Homo sapiens: one gene and its partners. The protein of the gene in region 1 purifies or fractionates together with the protein of each later gene. This does not show direct contact. Each region holds a gene or a part of one and is shown in the gene's direction. Other genes may lie near its edges. The genes, in order: KCTD13, FLNC and HSPB8.

Region 1 (3,651 bases):
TGTTAATAAGAGTCCAGTGACCTTTAAGACAGCTGCAATAAGGGCTTGAAGAACAGTTAGGAAAATGCTATTGGAAACTGATGGAAAGGAGATCCTTGTGTAGCGGCAGAAAGTTTAGCAACACTGTCTCCTGCATTAGTGTGGAGGGTAGGAAATATACCTAAGGAACGGATGGTCTAGCTAAGGAGCTTTCCAGACAGAATGTTGAAGGTGCCACCTGGCTTCTTGCTGCTTATAGTAAAACTGAAGAGGAGAGAGTAAGTTAAAGAAAAAAAACACTTAAATGAAAAAGAGCCTGAAATTGTTGGGTTTGAAAATTCCCAGCCTTTCCAGATAACAAGTGATGTTAAAATTAACAAATGGCTTCCGTGCAAAGATTAAATACAAGGCATTAAATACAGGGAAATGTGGTCTAAAGGTCAAGCTGAGGATGTGATGAAAAAGTCCTTTGTTAAGACCTCAGAAATACCAACAAGATGCCTCAGAGGGGACTTCCAGTCGAATGAAATAATAATCACGCTTCTGAGAAGGTTAAAGGTGTTGTCTTTCAGCGTCTCAGCACAAGCCCAAAGTAGAGAAGGGCTTACCTTGCAGAGATTTTCTTTTTTCTTTTTCTTTTCTTTTTTTTTTTTTTGAGATAGCTCACTGCAACCTCCTCCTCCTGGGTTCAAGTGATTCTCCTGTCTCAGCCTCCTGAGTAGCTGCGATTACAGGTGCCCACCACCACGCCCAGCTAATTTTTGTATTTTTAGTAGAGATGGGGTTTCACCATGTTGGTCAGGCTAGTCTCAAACTCCTGACCTCAGGTGATCCACCCACCTCGGCCTCCCAAAGTGCTGGGATTACAGGCGTGAGCCACTGTGCCTGGCCACTTGCAGAGATTTCTAGGTGTGGCTTTTTTCTAATGTAGTGAACCCTAAGACATGCAAGATACCCAATAAGTTATGAAGAGAATTATATTGGCAGAGACACTGCCAGCTTGGACTGAAAGGGACAGAGCCAGTGCAAAAGGACAAGACGGCTTTGCACACCCAAACTTTTACAGGCAGGAAGCAGGCAGATGAAACTGTGGAGCTGCAAACATCTTTCATGGAAGAGGTGGGACGACTCAGGGAGAGCCATGGAGAATCATTCATGAACAGGAGTAGGCATCAAAGAGTTCCTAGCATTTCTCCAACTGGATTACAGAATTTCCACACACCAGTGACTTATATGTATGACTTATATGTGCCTCCTGTCCCCTGCCCCACTTTTTTTTTTTTTTGAGACAGAGTCTTGCTATGTTGCCCAGGCTGGTCTCGAACTCCTGGGCTCAAGTAATCCTCCCACCTTGGCCTCCTGAGTAGCTGGGATGACAGGCACACGCTACCACGCCCGGCTTCCCCTGCTTTTGAGCAAGAATGTCCTTACTGGTTATCCTGTGCCTGCCTCTACCACTGCACACTGGGAGTGTGGAGATGACCTGTCTCTTTAGCTCACAGGTCTGCAGATAGGAAATGCACTTAAGGGCTGGATGCGGTGGCTCACGCCTGTAATCCCAACACTTTGGGAGGCCAAGGCAAGTGGATCACCTGAGGTCAGGAGTTAAAGACGAGCCTGGCCAACATGGTGAAATCCCGTCTCTACTAAAGAAAATTAGCTGGGATGGTGGTGCATGCCTGTAGTCCCAGCTACTTGGGATGCTGAGGCAAGAGAATCACTTGAACCTGGGAAGCAGAGTTTTCAGTGAGGTGAGATGGTGGTGGCTCTGCACTTCAGCTTGGGAGACAGAGCAAGACTCCATTTCAAAAAAAAAAAAAAAAAAGAAATGCACTTAAGGAGCCATAGTTACGGAACTGCATGCTAGAGCCACATCCCCACCTGGACCTGACTGAGATGATGAGATTCTGTACTTTGAGCTGATGCTGTAATGGGATGATGGGGGATCCTGGAAGGTGGTGAGTATATTTGGCATGTGGGAGGGGGGAAATCACTGAGAGCCAGCGGTGGCCTGTGGAGCCAGCCACCAAGGCAGCCTGATGATTCTCGTCCCCTGGTGCTCGTTCCTGTGTGTCATCTCCTTCCTCACTGGATAGGACCAACAGACCTAGGTCATAAAAGACAATGGAGGGGCCCGGCGCTGTGGCTCACGTCTGTAATCCCAGCACTTTGGGAGGCTGAGGCGAGTGGATCACCTGAGGTCGGGAGTTTGAGACCAGCCTGGCCAACATGGTGAAACCCTGTCTCTACTAAAAATACAAAAATTAGCTGGGCGTGATGGCACACCTCGGTAATCCCAGCTACTTGGGTGGTTGAGGCAGGAAAATCACTTGAACCTGGGAGGCGGAGGTTGCAGTGAGCCGATATTACGCCACTGCACTCCAGCCTGGGCGACACAGTGAGACTCCATCTCAAAAATAAAAAAGACAATGAGGCTTCCACCTTGCCCTCTCTGGAATTATTTGCTCTGGAGAAGCCAGTTGCCATGCTGCGAGGATACTCAAGCAACCCTGTGGAGAGATCTACATGGCAGGGATTTGTTGTTTCCTGCCAGCAGCTAGTGCGAACTTGCCAGCCACATGAACAAGCTTTCTCAGAGTGCATCCTCTAGGGGCGGTCATGCCTTTGATGCCCACAGCCCCACTGACATCTTGGCCACAGCCTCAGAAGAGACCCTGTGCCGGAGCCACCCAGCCGAGCCACTGCTGAGATCCTGACCCTCAGAAACAGAAGTAATAAATATTGTTAATTTAAGCTCCTAAATTGGGGGCAGTTTGTTACACAGTGATAGATAACGAATTCATACTCCGTAATTCCCCTCGCACATTTGTGGTGTCTTTTTAAAAATACCAATTCTCATATACACAGTGGTCTGTTTCTGATCGCTCTGTTGTGTTTCTCAGGTATTTTTGTTTCTGTGCCCGAACTGATACCGTTCTCACTGTTGTGGCTTTGCAGCCTATCTTAATATCTGGCAGGGTCGGCCTTTCCTCTTTGCTCTTATTTTTAAAAACTGACCTAAGTTTGGGAGGATGGCTTGAGCCCAGGAGGTCAAGGCTGCTGTAAGCTGTGGTCATGCCACTGCACTCAGCCTGGATGACAGCAAGACCCTGTCTCAAAAAAAAAAAAAAAAAAAAAATGGCCTCAGTAATTGTAGACTTTTATTATTCTCTGTTAATTTTAGAGAGTCTTATGAGTTTCTGCAAAAAACAAATCTGGAATTTGTATTAGAATTGCGCATTGAGTTTTCAAGGTTGGGAGAAGTGAGAGGGATTTTGGCATGAAGATTCTAGAAGACAGAAGAGAAAGAAGCCCATGGGTTTGCTTCAGATTTCTTTCTCCAACGTCATCCCACCCAATGAAGTTCATTCACTCAACAAATATGTTCATTCATTCAACAAATACAGAGCATCAGCTGTATACTAGGTAGTTATTCCTAGGTGGGAAGAGACAGATCATAAACAAATACAAAAAGTTAGAAAAAGTCAGACACTAACTGCTGTGTAGAAAATGAACTGATAGGCCTGGTGCAGTGGCTCACGCCTGTAATCCCAGCACTTTGGGAGGCTGAGGCGGGCTGATCACCTGAGTTCGGGAGTTCATGACCAGCCTGACCAACATGGAGAAACCTCGTCTCTACTAAAAATACAAAATTAGCTGGGTGTGGTGGCA
Region 2 (3,651 bases), on another chromosome or scaffold:
GGGTACCCTCCCAGGGTTTGGGGTTCAAGGTCTGAGCTGGGGCCTGGGCAGGCAGGAGGCCGGCCAGCAGGGCTGGTGCCAGGCTGCGTCAGCCAGGGCAGAAAGGCTTCATTGTTGGTGGTGGAGAGGGCTGTCCTGCTCCTACGTGGTGAGGGGCCTCGAAGCTGATGGGGTCAGCAGGAACCTGGCTGGTCAAGGCCTAGAGCTGGTGGGAAGGGGTGTAAAGCCACAGCCTCTGAGGGTGTTGGGTGAACAAATGCCCTGCATCCTGGCCGGCTGGCTGCCCCTCACCATCGTCTCCCTCCATCACCTCTCCAGGTCTCTGCCCCGACTGGGAGGCCTGGGACCCCAACCAGCCCGTGGAGAACGCCCGGGAGGCCATGCAGCAGGCCGACGACTGGCTTGGGGTGCCCCAGGTACATGCGCAGATGGGGCAGGGGGGAAAGGGGGCAGGGGCAGAGGTTGGGTCTGTAAGTTTACCTGGCCAGGGTGCAGGGGGAGACTGGGGCTGCTGGGAAAAGAGGGCGCCATGTGACATCACTCCTTTCCATCGCAGGTCATTGCCCCTGAGGAGATTGTGGACCCCAACGTGGATGAGCATTCTGTTATGACCTACCTGTCCCAGTTCCCCAAGGCCAAGCTCAAACCTGGTGCCCCTGTTCGATCCAAGCAGCTGAACCCCAAGAAAGCCATCGCCTATGGGCCTGGTATGTGTGAGCCCCTGGCGGCCCTCCTGGGCAGCTGGGCACATGTAGGCTCTCCCTGAGTAACCTGGGCTCTGCTCCTGCCCCGTAGGCATCGAGCCACAGGGCAACACCGTGCTGCAGCCTGCCCACTTCACCGTGCAGACGGTGGACGCGGGCGTGGGCGAGGTGCTGGTCTACATCGAGGACCCTGAAGGCCACACCGAGGAGGTATGCAGAGGCCGCTGGGGACAGAGGGATTCACTTGGGATTGGAACCAGAGAGCGTGGGGCCAACAACAGGAATGGCCCGGAGGTGACTGCCAGAGCCACACACTGTGCTGTGCAGTCTGGGGAAGGTGTCACCATGGGGGCTGAGTGGGGCTGGGGTGCATAAGGCACTGTGGGGTCAGGAGGGGCTATGGTCATTGGAGAGGCTTCCAATCTTTTTCCTTCCTAATAGGCTAAGGTGGTTCCCAACAATGACAAGGATCGCACCTATGCTGTCTCCTATGTGCCCAAGGTCGCTGGGTTACACAAGGTATCTCCCTCTAGGCCCCCCTGCCTGCGCTGCTCTTCACATCCTTGGTTCCGGCTGCATGGACCCCTCTCTCAGCCTGTACCTCGCGCCTGCCCAGAGCCCCAGCTGCCCGCCTCTCACCCTCCTTGGCCTGGCTGTGCCCCTCTGCCCCCTCTCAGGACTGCTCTCCCCTAGAAGCTAACCTTTGACCTCTGACCCCTAGGTGACCGTGCTCTTTGCTGGCCAGAACATTGAACGCAGTCCCTTTGAGGTGAACGTGGGCATGGCCCTGGGAGATGCCAACAAGGTGTCAGCCCGTGGCCCTGGCCTGGAACCTGTGGGCAATGTGGCCAACAAACCCACCTACTTTGACATCTACACTGCGGGTAGGACGGGCCCCAGGGGGTGCAGGTGGAAAGCCCCTGACCATGTGGGGCTGTGTGGGGGTGGGGGGAGGCTGGGACAGGGATGCCAGCCAGAGGGTGGGCAGCCTCAGGGTGAGGGCACCGGGGCAGCTGTGTGTGTCCAGAGTGGTGCTGACAGCCTCTGTTTTCGGCAGGGGCCGGCACTGGCGATGTTGCTGTGGTGATCGTGGACCCACAGGGCCGGCGGGACACAGTGGAGGTGGCCCTGGAGGACAAGGGTGACAGCACGTTCCGCTGCACATACAGACCTGCCATGGAGGGGCCACATACCGTGCATGTGGCCTTTGCGGGTGCCCCCATCACCCGCAGTCCCTTCCCTGTCCATGTGTCGGAAGGTAAGGGCCCTTCACTGCTCCCCACGGTAGCCCTTACCAAAGCCAGAGGCTTGCAAGGGGCAGGAGGAAGAGCTGGGGCGGGGGTCTGCAGAGACCCCCTCCCTGAGTCCTCCATCCCACCCCCAAGGTGGCTGGAGTTCCTAAGAGCACAGCTGGGAGGCCACAGTGAAGGGTCCCAGAACATGTGCCACCCTGGGAGGGCTGAGCGGAAGTGACGGGGCTGTATGGGTGGGGGCATATCTAGGGAGTACTGCCTGCATGCCAAGCCCTCAGGTGGTGACTGCCCCACTTGTTCTCTCCCTGCACTCAGTGCCCATCGTCCACCAGGCCGAGAGTGATGCCACATTAATGCTCTCCAGTGGAGGCGGGGCCAGGCATGGCCGCAGCTGACTGGCCTCACCTGTGCTGTGTGGCATGGCCCGGGCCGTGTGGAATCGCCCCCCCTTCCTTGGCATTCTGTGGCAGGCCCCAGGTTCCATGCCGTTGTCTGTGTTCTGTGGCAGGTCTAGTGTCTTTGCCACTTGCCTGGTGATTTCTATGATGAAATCTGGGCTCTGAGCCATTGCCTGTGTTCCGTGGTACCCCTTGGGCAGTGCCATCGCCTATGGTCATGGTAGTCCTGGAATATGTGTCGTGTCCTGTTTCGTAGCACCTGTGGGTCCCATGCCATTTTTCTGGATTCTGTGGCAGGCTGAGATTCCCATTCCTTTGCCTGTGTTCCATAGCAAGGCCTGGGCTCATTGCCACTGGCCACGGTCTGTGGTAGGCTGATGTCCACACGTTGCCTGTGTTGTATGGCAGGCTTCGAGTTCTATGAAGTAGCCCTTGTTCTGTGGCATTGCTGGATGTTTTGTGGCATGACTTAGATCCTAAGGTTGCTTTGGTGCCCTGAGAGGCCCAGAGGGCTCTAGATGGATGGCCTTGGGCTGGGTAAAGGGGCCTTCCCTGTCTCTCTGAGCCCACTCTCAGCCCAGGCTCTGCCATGCATTTCCCCAGTGGCACTGGCTCGGAAACTTTCTTGTAACCTGCCTGATCTGGGGCCTGTAGCCAGCTCCAGCCCGGCAGCCCCGGTTGTGCTGGGGACACAAAGGGCTCCAGAGCAGGGCCGTGGGCCACTGCCTGTGCCTGGGAGGGGTTAGAAGGACTGTGCACAGGGAGGTGGGGGCTAGTGGTCCAAGGCCCCTCAGCACCCCCAACCTCCTTTCTCTTCCTCCCCTAGCCTGTAACCCCAACGCCTGCCGCGCCTCTGGGCGAGGCCTGCAGCCCAAGGGTGTTCGCGTGAAAGAGGTGGCTGACTTCAAGGTGTTTACCAAGGGTGCCGGCAGCGGGGAGCTCAAGGTCACGGTCAAGGGGCCAAGTGAGTGCCAGAGCCCAGGGTCGTGAGGGTGGGGCTGGGGGATCATAAGGGAAGTATGGCCAGTGGTTCTGACTCCCAGAGGGCAGTGACAGCCAGCACCACAGCTCCACAGTGACCAGAGGCACCCCAGAATCTCAGGCTCATTGTCTCCTCTCTGCCTCAGTTTCTTGGTCTACAAGCCAGGAATGATTCTCTCCACCCTAAGTGCTATACGGGGTGTTATGCACAGGGATGACAAGTGTTCCCTGCCCTGAGTTGCAGCACTGCTCACTACAGCACTGCCCTCGGGCTGGGTCGGGGTCCCAATGGCTCCTTGAGGGGATTGAGGAGCT
Region 3 (3,309 bases), on another chromosome or scaffold:
AGCTAAAGTACCTGGCACATAGAAAGTACTCAGAAGGTCATGGATTTCATGGTTAAAAAAAATAATGGCACCCCAATGAGATCACTAATATGTCCTCACAGTTTTAATAGTTTGTTGAAGAAACCAAATTCTCAATAGTCTCATTCACCCAAAGCAATCCAAAAATCATAAAAATACCTTATTAGAAGTTGGACCAGATTTAGGTTTAGAAATTCCATCTTCGATGCTTTCTCACTTGTTGAGCTTGTCATTTGATTTCCCCCAAGTCTCTGTTTAGTGATCTGTAGAATGGGCATATTAATTCTTACCTCTTAATCATCCTCTTACAATACTCCAACCAAGTATTGTCTATAACTGAGTTTTAAGAACAAGATAATTGGCTGGGCTCGGTGGCTCACGCCTGTTATCTCAGCACTTTGGGAGGCTGAGGTGGGTGGATCACAAGGTCAGGAGTTCGAGACCAGCCTGGCCAACATGGTGAAACCCCATCTCTACTAAAAATACAAAAATTAGCCAGGCATGGTGGTGGGTGTCTGTAATCCACACTACTCAGGAGGCTGAGGCAGGAGAATTGCTTGAACCTTGGGAGGCGGAACTTGCAGTGAACCAAGATCGCGCCACTGAACTCCAGCCTAGGTGACAGAGTGAGACTCTGTCCCAAAAAAATAAAAGGAAGAACAAGATAATAATGATCTGCTAAGTGATTGTATTAGTCTGTTTTCACACTGCTGATAAAGACATACCTGAGACTACATAATTGATATATATATGAAAAAAAGAGTTTTAATGGACTCACAGTTCCACATGGCTGGGGAGGCCTCACAATCATGGCAAAAGGTGAAAGGCACGTCTTACATGGCAGCAGACAAGAGAGAAAATGAGAACCAAGCAAAAAATCTTATAAAACCGTCAGATCTCGTGAGACTTATTCCCTACCATGAGAACAGTATGGAGGAAACTGCCCCCTACCCATGATTCAATTATCTCCCATCAGGCCTCTCCCACAACGTATGGGAATTATGGGAGCTACAATTCAATATGAGATTTAGGTGGACACAGCCAAACCACATCAGAGATACTTAGGGTATGAACAAAATCAAGGCTTATTTTGAATACCATCGAGTATGTTGCCATCTGAAATCTACATGTGGCCAGCTTGGCCCCTTTTATCCACCAAGGTACCTAGTGCTTGCATCACCATTAATGCATTTTGTAGTGAAGCACTCTCCAGCAAGCACATGTCAGATGAAAATGTGTTGCCTGTTATGATAACACCTTACTTGCGCTCTATAAAGGGATGGTAGTGGTGCCATTTCTGCTAGTAATTGTGGTCAGTAGTGGGTATTAAGGTGATGACTTCAACCTGGGACCAAATATGTGGGCCACAGCTCTCTTTTAAGTTAAGAACTACTGTTCAAACAGCATTTTACCATTTGCAAAGCATACTCAGACTCTGAAGTTCAAATACTCTACAAGTTCAGTATTATTATCCTCATTTTGCAGATGAGAAAACAAGCTCAGAGCAACTGAATAATCTTCCCAAGACCACACAGCTAGAAAGGGGTAGAGCCAGGATTCAAACCCAACATTGTATGTCCCCAAAGCCTAAGCTCTTATCAAAAATATTTCCTCTCAAGTGAATAAAAGAATGTTTAAGCAATATTAACAACAATAAATGAATAAAATCGTGTGTTTCTCCTAGGCTTCCTGCAGAGGTGGATCCTGTGACAGTATTTGCCTCACTTTCCCCAGAGGGTCTGCTGATCATCGAAGCTCCCCAGGTCCCTCCTTACTCAACATTTGGAGAGAGCAGTTTCAACAACGAGCTTCCCCAGGACAGCCAGGAAGTCACCTGTACCTGAGATGCCAGTACTGGCCCATCCTTGTTTTGTCCCCAACCCTAGGGCTTCTCTGATTCCAGGATACATTACTTTAGCTGAACTCAGATTTAGTGCAAGTAAAATGTTAGAGGGTGCGGGGGTGAGGACTGACCACAGATTCCCTGGATAGTGTAGTGGTAGATTTCTCCACAGGATAGCGCAATTGGCAAATCATGCTTGGTTGTGTTAGGCCAAAATACTAGTTTTGCTTTCTTTACCTTTTCTATCTTGATGAAAATGTTGCACATTCTATAGTTGCAAAACACATAAAAGGGGACTTAACATTTCACGTTGTATCTTACTTGCAGTGAATGCAAGGGTTACTTTTCTCTGGGGACCTCCCCCATCACCCAGGTTCCTACTCTGGGCTCCCGATTCCCATGGCTCCCAAACCATGCCGCATGGTTTGGTTAATGAAACCCAGTAGCTAACCCCACTGTGCTTCCACATGCCTGGCCTAAAATGGGTGATATACAGGTCTTATATCCCCATATGGAATTTATCCATCAACCACATAAAAACAAACAGTGCCTTCTGCCCTCTGCCCAGATGTGTCCAGCACGTTCTCAAAGTTTCCACATTAGCACTCCCTAAGGACGCTGGGAGCCTGTCAGTTTATGATCTGACCTAGGTCCCCCCTTTCTTCTGTCCCCTGTGTTTAAGTCGGGATTTTTACAGAGGGAGCTGTCTCCAGACAGCTCCATCAGGAACCAAGCAAAGGCCAGATAGCCTGACAGATAGGCTAGTGGTATTGTGTATATGGGCGGGACGTGTGTGTCATTATTATTTGAGTTATGCTGTTGTTTAGGGGTAAATAACAGTAAATAATTAATAATAATAATAATAATAATAAAGGAGCTGACGTTCTTAGCCTTGTGTGGTTCTTTTAATGAGGAACTAAATGTAATACCACCTAGATATACAACATCAGTTAGCAATGCTGTGGCTTAAAGTAATGTTGCGCGGAGCCGCGATGCCTAAAGGAGGGAGAAAGGGAGGCCACAAAGGCTGGGCGAGGCAGTATAGGAGCCCTGAGGAGATCGACGTACAGCTGCAGGCTGAGAAGCAGAAGGCCAGGGAAGAAGAGGAGCAAAAAGAAGGTGGAGATGGGGCTGCAGGTGACCCCAAAAAGGAGAAGAAATCTCTAGACTCAGATGAGAGTGAGGATGAAGAAGATGACTACCAGCAAAACCGCAAAGGCGTTGAAGGGCTCTTCAACATCGAGAACCCCAACCAGGTGGCACAGACAACCAAAAAGGTCACACAACTGTATCTGGATGGGCCAAAGGAGCTTTCGAGGAGAGAACGAGAAGAGATTGAGAAGCAGAAGGCAAAAGAGCGTTACATGAAAATGCACTTGGCCGGGAAGACAGAGCAAGCCAAGGCTGACCTGGCCCGCTGGCCATCATCCGGAAACAGCGGGAGGAGG

The links.
Region 2: the proteins of KCTD13 (region 1) and FLNC purify together in Homo sapiens (affinity purification with mass spectrometry; 3 studies listed by BioGRID and IntAct, with this or other methods). This does not show direct contact.
Region 3: the proteins of KCTD13 (region 1) and HSPB8 purify together in Homo sapiens (affinity purification with mass spectrometry; 3 studies listed by BioGRID and IntAct, with this or other methods). This does not show direct contact.

What each region holds. Positions count from the first base shown.
Region 1 is NC_000016.10:29,912,589-29,916,239, reverse strand, and holds part of KCTD13 (BTB/POZ domain-containing adapter for CUL3-mediated RhoA degradation protein 1), read left to right. Parts: intron 1-3,651. UniProt on the Homo sapiens protein: Substrate-specific adapter of a BCR (BTB-CUL3-RBX1) E3 ubiquitin-protein ligase complex required for synaptic transmission.
Region 2 is NC_000007.14:128,836,842-128,840,492, forward strand, and holds part of FLNC (filamin-C), read left to right. Parts: intron 1-318; coding exon 319-416; intron 417-556; coding exon 557-707; intron 708-795; coding exon 796-914; intron 915-1,145; coding exon 1,146-1,223; intron 1,224-1,425; coding exon 1,426-1,588; intron 1,589-1,761; coding exon 1,762-1,962; intron 1,963-3,181; coding exon 3,182-3,319; intron 3,320-3,651.
Region 3 is NC_000012.12:119,191,997-119,195,305, forward strand, and holds the end of HSPB8 (heat shock protein beta-8), read left to right. Parts: intron 1-1,702; coding exon 1,703-1,862; 3' UTR 1,863-2,750; downstream 2,751-3,309. UniProt on the Homo sapiens protein: Involved in the chaperone-assisted selective autophagy (CASA), a crucial process for protein quality control, particularly in mechanical strained cells and tissues such as muscle. Displays temperature-dependent chaperone activity.